2 linked regions of the Homo sapiens genome follow. Each later gene encodes a partner of the first gene's protein in a complex. Each region holds a gene or a part of one and is shown in the gene's direction. Other genes may lie near its edges.

What was found. The genes of interacting proteins can lie anywhere in the genome.
Region 2: the proteins of GIGYF1 (region 1) and EIF4E2 are in contact, whole or in part, in a crystal structure (PDB 5NVK), measured with the Homo sapiens proteins. Residues at the interface, in NP_001362694.1 of Homo sapiens: Leu36, Ala37, Asp38, Tyr39, Arg40, Tyr41, Gly42, Arg43, Met46, Leu47, Leu49, Tyr50, Glu53, Asn54, Lys55, Val56, Pro57, Glu59, Leu60, Glu64, Phe65, Ala67, Val68, Leu69, Gln70, Asp71, Glu72, Pro73, Leu74, Gln75; in NP_004837.1 of Homo sapiens: His54, Pro55, Leu56, Gln57, Tyr64, Lys83, Gln84, Ile85, Gly86, Val91 (codon at 3,559), Glu92 (codon at 3,562), Trp95 (codon at 3,571), Arg96 (codon at 3,574), Phe97 (codon at 3,577), Tyr98 (codon at 3,580), Ser99 (codon at 3,583), His100 (codon at 3,586), Met101 (codon at 3,589), Val102 (codon at 3,592), Arg103 (codon at 3,595), Leu107 (codon at 3,607), Phe113 (codon at 3,625), Ile137 (codon at 6,174), Arg138 (codon at 6,177), Leu139 (codon at 6,180), Arg140 (codon at 6,183), Gly142 (codon at 6,189), Leu143 (codon at 6,192), Ser145 (codon at 6,198), Arg146 (codon at 6,201).

What each region holds. Positions count from the first base shown.
Region 1 is NC_000007.14:100,678,999-100,684,274, reverse strand, and holds the end of GIGYF1 (GRB10-interacting GYF protein 1), read left to right. Parts: coding exon 1-38; intron 39-117; coding exon 118-255; intron 256-356; coding exon 357-457; intron 458-642; coding exon 643-725; intron 726-830; coding exon 831-971; intron 972-1,044; coding exon 1,045-1,263; intron 1,264-1,497; coding exon 1,498-1,685; intron 1,686-1,792; coding exon 1,793-1,953; intron 1,954-2,039; coding exon 2,040-2,203; intron 2,204-2,281; coding exon 2,282-2,411; coding exon of another isoform or gene 2,412-2,503; coding exon 2,504-2,556; coding exon of another isoform or gene 2,557-2,587; 3' UTR 2,588-4,768; downstream 4,769-5,276. UniProt on the Homo sapiens protein: May act cooperatively with GRB10 to regulate tyrosine kinase receptor signaling. May increase IGF1 receptor phosphorylation under IGF1 stimulation as well as phosphorylation of IRS1 and SHC1.
Region 2 is NC_000002.12:232,560,689-232,567,720, forward strand, and holds part of EIF4E2 (eukaryotic translation initiation factor 4E type 2), read left to right. Parts: intron 1-3,558; coding exon 3,559-3,663; intron 3,664-6,140; coding exon 6,141-6,293; intron 6,294-6,389; coding exon 6,390-6,526; intron 6,527-7,032. UniProt on the Homo sapiens protein: Recognizes and binds the 7-methylguanosine-containing mRNA cap during an early step in the initiation. Acts as a repressor of translation initiation.

The sequences.
Region 1 (5,276 bases):
CAGCTGCAGCACCAGCAGTTTCTCCAGCTGGTCAGCAGGTATGGGGGGCCTGGGGTGGGCTGGGAGAAGGCCCGGCGCTGGCTCTGTGGCCCACCATCTCCACTGTCCCATTTGCAGCCGCCAGCTCCCACAGTGCGCGCTCCGAGAAAAGGCAGCTCTGGGGGACCTGACACCGCCACCACCGCCGCCGCCACAGCAGCAGCAGCAGCAGCTCACGGCATTCCTGCAGCAGCTCCAGGCGCTCAAACCCCCCAGGTGCGTGGTGCGTGCGAGCCCTCAGGATACAGGGTGGGGGGGGGATGGGGGCAGACCAGAGATGGATTTGGGGTCCTAAGAATCCACAATTTGCTCCTCAGAGGCGGGGACCAGAACCTGCTCCCGACGATGAGCCGGTCCTTGTCGGTGCCAGATTCGGGCCGCCTCTGGGACGTACATACCTCAGCCTCATCACAGTCAGGTGTGTGGCCTGACTGGTCCCCACCCCCAAGGCAGTCTCCGGGTGAAATGGGGTCTGGGGTCTGCTCCCCACCCCCACACGCCCCTAGCTGCCATTCTGGCTGGGGAGCCCACTGCTGCGGCTGGACTAGATCAGTGGGCCCAAGTGCCCACCTGCAGCCGCCTCTGCCCCCCTGCCCCCTGCAGGTGGTGAGGCCAGTCTTTGGGACATACCAATTAACTCTTCGACTCAGGGTCCAATTCTAGAACAACTCCAGCTGCAACATAAAGTGAGTGGGCATCCTGGGGCTGAGGCCCTGGGAATGAAGGGTGGACCGAGGCAGGCCCCAGGCTGTCCCCTGCAGCTCTCCCCTCTGATGGGCCACTGGTCTCAGTTCCAGGAGCGCAGAGAAGTGGAGCTCAGGGCGAAGCGGGAGGAAGAGGAACGCAAGCGTCGAGAGGAGAAGCGCCGCCAGCAGCAGCAGGAGGAGCAGAAGCGGCGGCAGGAGGAGGAAGAGCTGTTTCGGCGCAAGCACGTGGGTGCTCCCAAGCCTCAGCTGGCTGGGTGGACAACCCTCGCCAGGTCCCCTCACCATGTCCCCCTCTTAGGTGCGGCAGCAGGAGCTATTGCTGAAGTTGCTACAGCAGCAGCAGGCGGTCCCTGTGCCCCCCGCACCCAGCTCCCCGCCCCCACTCTGGGCTGGCCTGGCCAAGCAGGGGCTGTCCATGAAGACGCTCCTGGAGTTGCAGCTGGAGGGCGAGCGGCAGCTGCACAAACAGCCCCCACCTCGGGAGCCAGCTCGGGCCCAGGCCCCCAACCACCGAGTGGTGAGCAGGCCGGGAACCTCCCGGGCTCCCCCTACAGTTTCCAGGGTGGCACAGGGAGGGGGATACTGAACCCAGACTTGTGCAGCCCCAGCCCCAGTCCCAGCCTCTCCTGTGATGGCAACAGCTCTTGTGGCCCTCACCTCACCTGTCTCCCTTTGCCACCTAAACAAGCCTCCCCATCCGCTTTTCTGGGGTGCCTTTGTTTGAGCCACTCTGATCTTCTGCCATCTGTAGCAGCTTGGGGGCCTGGGCACTGCCCCCCTGAACCAGTGGGTGTCTGAGGCTGGGCCACTGTGGGGCGGGCCAGACAAGAGTGGGGGCGGCAGCAGCGGCCTGGGGCTCTGGGAGGACACCCCCAAGAGCGGCGGGAGCCTGGTCCGTGGCCTCGGCCTGAAGAACAGCCGGAGCAGCCCATCTCTCAGGTGGGCGTGGCACCTGGAGGCTCCGGGATGGCCCTGAGGGGGAAGGTGGCAGACCCCCCCAACCCCTGCCAGCTGATTTCCAACCCTGACTCACCCTCCCCCTTCAGTGACTCATACAGCCACCTATCGGGTCGGCCCATTCGCAAAAAGACGGAGGAAGAAGAGAAGCTGCTGAAGCTGCTGCAGGGCATTCCCAGGCCCCAGGACGGCTTCACCCAGTGGTGCGAGCAGATGCTGCACACGCTGAGCGCCACGGGCAGCCTGGACGGTGGGCGAGCGGCTCCCAGGAGGTGGGCGGGACCTGGGTCTCCAGACCCGGCCAGGGGGCCCTGACAGCCTTCGCTCATCCTGCAGTGCCCATGGCTGTAGCGATCCTCAAGGAGGTGGAATCCCCCTATGATGTCCACGATTATATCCGTTCCTGCCTGGGGGACACGCTGGAAGCCAAAGAATTTGCCAAACAATTCCTGGAGCGGAGGGCCAAGCAGAAAGCCAGCCAGCAGCGGCAGCAGCAGCAGGTGAGGCAGCCGGCACCAGCAGCTGGGGTGGGCTTGCCTGGTGCCTCCTGACCTTCACCCTCCTCTCCGCTGCCTTAGGAGGCATGGCTGAGCAGCGCCTCGCTGCAGACGGCCTTCCAGGCCAACCACAGCACCAAACTCGGCCCCGGGGAGGGCAGCAAGGCCAAGAGGCGGGCACTGATGCTGCACTCAGACCCCAGCATCCTGGGTGAGCTGGGCTGGGGCAGGAGCGGGACTTCCTTGGCACAGGGCAGGAGGAGCCCAGGAGAGAGCTCAGACGCAGCTTCTCCCCGGCTTCAGGGTACTCCCTGCACGGATCTTCTGGTGAGATCGAGAGCGTGGATGACTACTGACCAGCCCGGACCCCCAGCCCCTGGGCTGTAGGCCAGGGCAGCCACAGCGGCGTGGACCGAGGGTCCCAGCCTGCAGGCTCCCCGCAGAGAGCACAGGAAGAGGCAGGGGCGGGGTCCCCAGCACTTGTTACAAACACACGATGCACCTTAACTCACCCACCACGAGGCACTTTACAGACTGGGGGAGGGGGTTTTTCTTTTTATTTTTTTTTTTAATTTTAAACGACTGAAGAAAACATTAGGAGAGGCAAAAATATTGTTAAAAACTAGACTCTAAACACCCCTTCCTGCTGTGAGGATAGTGGGTGTGACAATGGAAGGTCCACAGAGGTTTTTGTTTTTTGGTTTTTTTTTTTTTTTTAAGAAAAAAAGATGAAAAATGAAAAAAAAAATGGTTAGGAGGCTGAAAGAAAAAACACACTGTTATTTTGGGGCAGTGGGGACACAGGCCCCGTGGACCTGTCCTGCCTGGCCCCCAAGGCCATACTTACCCCCCAGAAGGCGGGCCATGGGGTAACTGGAAGCTGGGGGCCAGCAGTTTGCACAGGAGGCCTGTCTGAGCCCCACCCGCCAGACCTGTTGTGAGCAGCTCCTGTCACTGAGGCTGGCTGAGGTGTCCGGGGTGGGGCCAAAGTAGCCCCTTGGCTTCGCTGCTTTGGGGGACAGTTGCACAAATTGGACGAGTGGCCCCAGCTCTCTGGCTGCCATCTTGTGCTGGCCGAGTAGACGGGAGGGGCCAAGCCGTGCCAACCTCTCTGGCTGGCAGGGTGGGGCAGCAGGACTCTGGTTCTGGTGAGGGGCGTCTCCCACTGCTGCCATTTTGGGGGACACCCTGGGTTTGAACCTGAAAGCCCCAGCTCTCTGCCTTGCCACGTGAATGTATTCTTTGGGCCACAAGCCCCCGCCTCACCCCTGCCTGAGCTGCCTCACCCCTGTGAGCGGCGGGGGTGGATGATTGCTCCAGAGGCTGCAGAGAGAAGGCTGAGCTGTTTCTCCAGTGAAGGGGGCAGGAGGAGGGGCCTCAAAGGCAAGGAGTGGGTGGCTTTGGGCTTAGGGTTGCAGTAGAGGGGCTGCCGCCCGGGGCCCCAACCTGTAGCCAGCTCGTAAGATGTGGACCACCCAGCTCTGCACCTGACCCTTCCGCTGACCAAATGGGAGAGGAGCAGGTGGCCTTCCGGGTCTGATATGATGCGCTTTTTACCGTTGGGTAAGGTTGGGGTGAAGAGAAGTGTGCGGCTCCTGGGTCAGAGGAGGCTGCCCCTTCTATTGCTCACCCACTTCTTATTCCCGGTCCCCTACTTGGGTTCGTCTCCGCCCATTTTGGGTTTTGTAACAGTTTTGTCTTTTGGGTTTCTCATCCAGCTCCTCCCATTGACCTCATTGCTCAGAGTGCAGTATTAGGGCAAGGCTTCGCCACTGCCTCCCTCCATGAATGTATTTCTCCCTCCTGCCCTGGGGACATGGGGAGTGGCCCGTTTCTTTCCCCATCTAGTCCCAGAAAGATGGTGTTTGGTTTTCTGTTGTTGGATTTTTTTTTTTTTTTTTTTTTTTTTGCACCAAAGTGGCAACTAGGTCAGTGTTGGGGGATCAAGCTGGCCTCGGGGTGGGGGGCCCCCACCTGCCTCTCCCTGGTTCCCACAGTGTTAGCGTCCCTGAAAAGACAATATTCTCTCTAAAGCAATAAGGGGTGACGGGCCGGGGGGAGTGTTTGCTGCTGCTGGCCCCCAGCTCCCCTTCCCTCTTGCCAGGTGTGGGGGAGACTCCTGTTGTGACTGAATGTAACCCCCCCACCCCTGCCGCAGCCAATGCAGGGGAAGGGGGACACTCTTCCTGTCTCTTCTCCCCAGCTAAAGAGACTTTGGACTTAGGGGGCCCATGAGCCTGGAGAGGCCTTAACCCTGTGAGGAAGTATAGGGGGAGCCCTCTCCCACCCCCATCCCCTTCTGAGAGTGGTCAATGTTTACAAGCCCCTGAGCCCCCCTGCCCAGGGACTCAGACCCTGTTGCTGTCCTTCCCCGGCCCCGGTCTTCCTGGGCCCTCGCTGCTCCCCTGCCCTTCCTGGGGTTGGGGTGGGTGCAGGGGTCACCGTGTTCCCTGTCTGCCTTGTACCCACAGTCTCCCCGCCCCCTCTCCACCCTGTGTGACTTCCCTCTCTTTTACCTGCTCCTGTAAATACTCCCTTCTCCCAATAAAACTTGGTGTGTGTTCTCCCGTTCCGCCTCCACTGCTCGTTATCTGGGGAGAGCCATGGGGATGAGTGGCTCTGCACAGAGCTGGGAACTAGGAGCTCTGAGCAGTGCCCGCCTGGTCAGGCTGGCTCTGGTCAGCAGCCTGACGGGGGAAACCATGGTGAGGGCTGCTTATCCGAGAACCTCTGGACGGAAGGCTCTGGGCTGGGGCTTCAGCTTTGCTCTGAGGGAGAGTGGGGACCCCACCCCCAGCCCCAGCTGCCTGGCAGGCCCCATACCTTCCCCACCATCCACCCCCTCAGCAGCCCTCAGGCAACAAAGTCCAGAAACAAGGAGAACACAGCAAGGGCAGAGACCAGGTACAGAGTTGGAATTGGCTCCTTTATGGAAAAACTGAAAATATAATAAAAATTAAAATAAAACCAGTTTTAAAAAAGCCAGCCCCTGGGGTTTCCACCTCCTGCCTCCGGCCCTCCAGAGGGGTGAGGCCCCAACCCCAGGGCAGCAGAAGGATGAGGGCCTCCTGCTCCT
Region 2 (7,032 bases), on another chromosome or scaffold:
GGAGAAAATATTGCAAATCATATCTAATACTTGTATCTAGAATACTCTTACAACTCAGTTATAATCTGCTTAATATGAAATCAACATCATTACTATGCTGAGCTGATAAAATTTCAGCCTAAAGCAAAGATCTTGTTTAGTTTGCCAGTGCTATCTTAGAATCAGCAAACTTAGGGGTTTTGTAATAATAAACTACCTTGTGCACTGGTTCATATTTGGTTCAATAAATGCTTGTTGAATGAATTCAAGGCTCTAGTAGGCTTCTAAAAGGAATGAAGGCACAGATCCTGTCCTTGGGGAAATAAGATGTGCCCAGGAATTTCTAATACAGGGAAGACAGTAAGTGATACTATGGGAAAGGCATTTAGAGTGCTCTTGGAGTTTGGAGGAAAGAAGGAATTGATTCCAGTTTGGGGAATACTGCCTTGGAAGAGATGGGTTTAAGATTGATTTTAAAGAATTTGGCCAGGCCTGGTAGCTCATGCCTGTAATCCCAGCACTTCGGGAGGCCAAGGTGGGAGGATCGCTTGAAGCCAGGAGTTCAAAACCAGCCTGGGCAACATAGTGAGATCTTATCTCAAAAAAAGATTTTTTTGGAGTAATTATGCATACTTCTTGCATTTTTATTTCCCTCTTGTGAAAAAAAAAAGCATATAAGAATTTACCCAAATTGTACGAGGAGGGTTTTTCTTTTGTTTCAGTGTATATGTTAAGGAGTGGTTTATCATCAGGACTATCTTGGGTTAAGGCTTCATCCATGCTCACTGGATGTGTGACAGTATTTAAAGTCTGTCATTTTGACTCTGTAGGTCTGGACCTGAAAAATAGAAATAAAGTCTGTTGTGTAATTCAGGTCACTAGGAAATGGCTCACAATATTAAATGCATCACAGATAAATAATTACATTATGAATCCTTTTATCAAATTGAAAGCAGTGTTTCCCAGTGATTCTTAGCCTAATCATTAACAACATTTAAAAGTTCTTGAAGTCAGAGTGACTAGGAAGGCATCATCTTGAAATGGAAAGAGCACTAGACTTGGTAATCAGAGCTCACCTATTCTGATGCTTGACCCTCTTGGTTAGAGCAACTCAGTCCTGAAACCTTTCTCAACTATAAAACAAGTTGCTGACATGATTTCTGAGGTCCTTTCGGCACCTCATATTCTGAGTCTGTGAATGCTTATTTTTTTTTTTGGTTTCAATTAGAACTGTCAAATCTTTTAAAGTTTAATAATATTTCTCAGGCCAGGCACAGTAGCTAATGCCTGTAGTCCCAGCACTCAGGGAGGCCAAGGAGGGAGGATCACTTGAATCCAGGACTTCAAGACCAGCCTGGCAACAGTGTTAGACTTCATCTCTACAAAAAAAGTAAAAAAATAGCTGGGCATGGTGGTGCCCACTTGTGGTCCCAGCTACTCAGGAGGCTGAGGCAGGAGGATTGCTTGAGCCTGGGAAGTCGAGGCTGCAGTGAGCCATGATCACACTGCTGCACTCCAGCCTGGGTAACAGAGCAAGACCCCATCTCAAATGATGAATGAATGAATGAATGATAGTCTCGAGCTGTTTAACTTCATCTCTCTTATGGTTTGCATATAAGATTGTGCAGTGGGGCTGGGCGCGGTGGCTCACGCCTGTAATCACAACACTTTGGAAGGCCAAGGCAGGTGGATCACCTGAGGTCAGGAGTTCGAGACCAGCCTGGCTAACATGGTGAATGGTGAAACCCCATCTACTAAAAATACAAAAATTAGCCAGGCGTGGTGGTGTGTGCCTGTAGTCCCAGCTACTCGGGAGGCTGAGGCAGGAGAATCACTTGAACCCAGAAGGCAGAGGTTGCAGTGAGCTGAGGCAGGCTGCACCATTGCACTCCAGCCTGGACAAAAAGAGCGAAACTCCATCTCAAAAAAACAAACAAAAAAAAGATTGTGCAGTGTAGTTGTAAGATTGGGGAGACCAAACTGTTAAAGCGATTATTGACTGGGGAACTGGAGATGGTTGACATACTTTGTCCTCACCAAGCCCCTTTCAGTTCCTTATTCACAATGAGCCACTAGTGGGTGTACTTGGTTCTAGTGGGTATATGTGGTTTTATTCAACTATGTTAGGGTGGATAAAGGTTTACATTATTGCCGATTGTATTCATATGACCATTTACTATTCCGAGTCACTACATGCAGCTAAGCTTAGCAGTTGCTGAGTATAAAGCACTGCCTTGAAGCCCTATAGATGGCGTTAGTTCTGACTTCTTTTTACCATGTAAGATGCATCACGTGTGCTTGTGCTAGAGAGGAACTAAAGGGACAGCCATTTCACGCAGTGTAAGGCTGATTTCTCCTTAGGTGCTCCCCATATCTAGAAGTATGACCTGAATCTTTGTCTACTCGATACCCATTGTCAGCTCCACAGTTGTGGTATCTTGCTGTATGTTGATTTAGAGCCTGCTCAGCAGTTTAGCAGATACCAGCTATTTCTCATTGGAATGTTCCGTGTTTTCTCTTTCCTCCTAAAGTGTGCCTCTTCACTGGCCAGTACTTACTACGTATCCTCTGTGAATAAGGAAATAATCTTTCCTATCAAGACACTAGTGAACCTGTAGTCCCAGCTACTTGGGAGGCTGAGATGGGAGGATCCCTTGACACCAGGAGTTAGAGGCTGTGATGAGCTATGATCATACTGCTGCGTAGACCCTGTCTCTTTTTTTTTTCTTTTTTTTTAAGGGGAGGGGGGGTGACACTAATGAGAAAAACAGGACTACTGTGATGAATACAAATAAGCATATACTTGATGGAAAAATATAAATCTAGTTTTCTCACGGGATTGTGAAGGAGCGGCAAGGAGAAACATAATTTTTCTAGCTAAGAAGAGGGCCTTAAACCCTAGCTATGAGAAGCTAAGTCCTGTATGATTTTGGATTGGCCTGGACTTAGCAACAGCACCATGATGTAGAGTGGTATGTGTGGTACATGTGGTTGATTCTATCACTTACGCTTAGTAACTAAACAGGTCTAAGAGGTATTTACATGTGGTTGATTCTATCACTTATGCTTACTAACTAAACAGGTCTAAGAGGTATTTCATTCAGCAAATGCTATATTTGCCAGTTAAACAATCTTTCATCGGTAAGTGATTTGGTTCTAAAAAATGCATTCAGGCTGAGGCTGTGTGACACTTACATACCTCAAGGCTAAAGAGTTTCCATTGTGCAAAAACCTGGTCCTCTTACTGCATGTGATGACTACCCTGCAGCTTGAGTGGGAGAGTGCGTATTAACATGGTTTCACCAACTAAAGCTCCTGGCTGAGGCTTGCATTTCTCACCAAAGATTTTATTCTTGAATTGCGAATGTTACATTTTTTATTTTGTCAAACTAGATGGTATGTTTTTCCTCTAATATGTCTTCCCTCACAACACCACACATGAAAATGAGTCCTCTGAAAAGGACAGCCTGTAGTATAGTGTCTTCCATGCTTATGTTCTTAACTAAATCTCAACCTTGGGATGCATTCAAAGAAAAGTAAAAGACACATGTTTTTTACTCTGGGGTCTTCTCTCTGCAGGTGGAGCAGTTCTGGAGGTTTTATAGCCACATGGTACGTCCTGGGGACCTGACAGGCCACAGTGACTTCCATCTCTTCAAAGAAGGAATTAAACCCATGTGGGAGGTAAGGACTAATGGCTTCTGACTGCTTTTTTGAGCAAGTTTGGGTTTTTTTGTTTTGTCTCTTAGCCCTGCCAAGGTTAAAAGTATTTTATTTTATTTTATTTTATTTTATTTTATTTGAGACGGAGTGTCGCTCTGTCACCCAGGCTGAGCGCAGTGGCGCGATCTCGGCTCACTGCAAGCTCCGCCTCCCAGGTTCACGCCATTCTCTTGCCTCAGCCTCCCTAGTAGCTGGGACTACAGGCGCCCACCACCGCGCCCGGCTAATTTTTTGTGTTTTTTAGTAGAGACGGAGTTTCACCGTGTTAGCCAGGATGGTCTCGATCTCCTGACCTCGTGATCCGCCCGCCTTGGACTCCCAAAATGCTGGGATTACAGGCGTGAGCCACCGTGCCCAGCTGGTTAAAAGTGTTTTAAAGTCTCTCAAAACTGCATCACTCTCCAGTATATCCTTGGAACCCGAGCCTCTAGAGAAATGCACTGATGCCATTTTTTGTCTGTGTGGGTTGGTGCTGGGTGTTTTTTAAAGACTGTTTTATGACTAAAATGGTATTAGAACATTAAAGGATTTTTGTTTTCAGTTACCTTTATCCTTATAGAACTTGTTTGTGCGTGTGTGTAATATTTTTACATAGTACACATATGATTAAAGTGGGTAAGAAAATAAGTTTAAAGGCAGGAACTGGAGACCTAGAACTTTGCAGAGCCAGTATTCGGCTGCGCCCTGGTGTAGTGCATCTTCTATTCTGGTGCCATGGCATTTTTCGAGAAGACAAATGTGGTCACATCCACGCCACCCATCTTATACAGCTCCTCATTGCTCACATGATCTTGCACCTCATTTACCTTTCAAGCCTCATCTCCCATCATCTCTAAATCTTCCCTTCCCTGCAGGTGGACCCTCCTGTCAGTTTATGCACAGACATGTTCTTCCCAGTGCCCGCAGTGCCCTTCAGCTGCTTTTCCTGACTCACTCCCGTTGACCTTAAGACCCACTTCTTGGCAGGGCATGGTGGCCCATGCCTGTAATCCCAGCACTTTGGGAGGTCGAGGTGGACAGATCACCTGAGGTCAGGAGTTTGAGGCCAGCCTGGCCAACATGGTGAAACCCCGTCTCTACTAAAAATACAAAAATTAGCCAGGTGTGGTGGCACGCGCCTGTAATCCCAGCTACTCGGGAGGCTGAGACAGGAGACTCACTTGAACCCAGGAGGTGGAGGTTGCACTGAGCCAAGATTGTGCCACTGCACTCCAGCCTGGGTGACAGAGCGAGACTCCATCTCAAAAAAAGAAAAGAAAAAAAAAGACCCACTTCTTGACTGTTTCCAACTATCTTGTTCTTCCTTAACATAGTGTGCATATCTGTTAACAGCAGCACTTATAATTATAGTATCATTGCTGTAATTAATATCCTTGGCTGTCTCTTCTACTGGACTGGATCTGAGTAGAGATTGGGGCTTCAGCCAGGCGCAGTGGCTCACTCCTGTAATCCCAGCACTTTGGGAATCCGAGGCAGACAGATCACGAGGTCAAGGGTTCGAGACCAGCCTGGCCAATATGGTGAAACCCTGTCTCTACTAAAAATACAATAATTAGCCGGGTGTGGTGGCATGTGCCTGTAGTCCCAGCTACCCAGGAGGCAGAGACAGGAGAATCGCTTGAACCCAAGAGGCAGAAGTGGCAGTGAGCCGATATCGCACCACTGCACTCCAGACTGGGTGACAGCGGGAGACTCCATCGCAAAAAAGAAAAAAAAAAAAACTAGATTGGGGCTTCATGTCTGTGTACTTGGTATGTAGTGACAGTCAGTACTTTTTTTTGTCGTCGTTGTTGTTTTGTTTTGTTTTGTTTTTTGAGACGGAGTCTTGCTGTGTTTCCCAGGCGGGAGTGCAGTGGCACGATCTCGGCTCCCTGCAAGCTCTGCCTCCCGAGTTCACGCCATTCTCCCGCCTCAGCCTCCCGAGTAGCTGGGACTACAGGCGCCCACCACCATGCCCGGCTAATTTTGTTTTTGTATTTTTAGTAGAGACGCGGTTTCACCGTGTCAGCCAGGATGGTCTCGATCTCCTCACCTCGTGATTCGCCCACCTCAGCCTTCCAAAGTGTTGGGATTACGGGCGTGAGCCACTGCGCCCAGCAGACATTCAGTACTTTTAGCAAGTAAACGGATGATCTGTGCTTGAAATATGACATCATTTCGTTTTGATTCCTAAAGTATTTCCAGTAAAGGGGATTATTTTTAAAAGGTCTGTTTAGCCATTTTAATAAATGGCTTATGCCAAGGATCCCAGCCTTGTTTTTCTTTTTTTCCCCATTTCTTCTCTCCCTAGTCCTACCATCAGTTTTTCTATAGAGTTGAATAATTGGAAAGTGATATGACTTCTTAGTGTTTAAGAGATTCTTGGCTTTTTACTGCCTTCATACAAAAAAAGGCTGTGAAACCATATTTTAACTTCAGTGCTTTCTGTCTTTTTACAGGATGATGCAAATAAAAATGGTGGCAAGTGGATTATTCGGCTGCGGAAGGGCTTGGCCTCCCGTTGCTGGGAGAATCTCATTTTGGCCATGCTGGGGGAACAGTTCATGGTTGGGGAGGAGATCTGTGGGGCTGTGGTGTCTGTCCGCTTTCAGGTAAGCCACCCATGAGCCAGGCTGGTTTCTTGTGTTGCCTTTGCTCTCCTCGCTGCCCCTGATTTGCTTTGATGATTCCTTCTGTTCCTCTGGTAGGAAGACATTATTTCAATATGGAATAAGACTGCCAGTGACCAAGCAACCACAGCCCGAATCCGGGACACACTTCGGCGAGTGCTTAACCTACCTCCCAACACCATTATGGAATACAAAACTCACACCGACAGCATCAAGTACGTGTTGGGGGGTTATGGGAGGACGTGTCCCTAAGCTTAGTATAAGTAGATCTGTAGTTGGGCCCAGAGGAATATGGCCGGACAGGAGACTTACTTGTGGAGAAGGGACAGACCAGGCCTTCCCTCTAGGGCTTCTGGCTACTTGCTGCAGTTCTTTGTCAGCGAGGCTCCCTGCCACCTATACTACCAGGTGCTTTGTAGCAGAGAGAGCCCATCTGCAGAAACCCAGTTGTACTACCTGGGCTTGCTTAATTTCTACAGGCTGTCTTGTCTTTCATATGCTAACCACTATCTTAAAATGAAAGACAAGTGCTTTTCTTTTTCTTGCTGTTTTTTAAGATAATTTCACCCTGCCCACCCTCACCCCACTTCTGCATGTCTTTTTAACTTGTTAGCTTCAGTCTATTTTCTTTGTCCTGGGATACTGACTACTTATCAGGAATGACTCCATTTCCTTGTGTATAGAGCTGACTCTTAGAAGAAGGGGGATAGTGTGTGTGTGA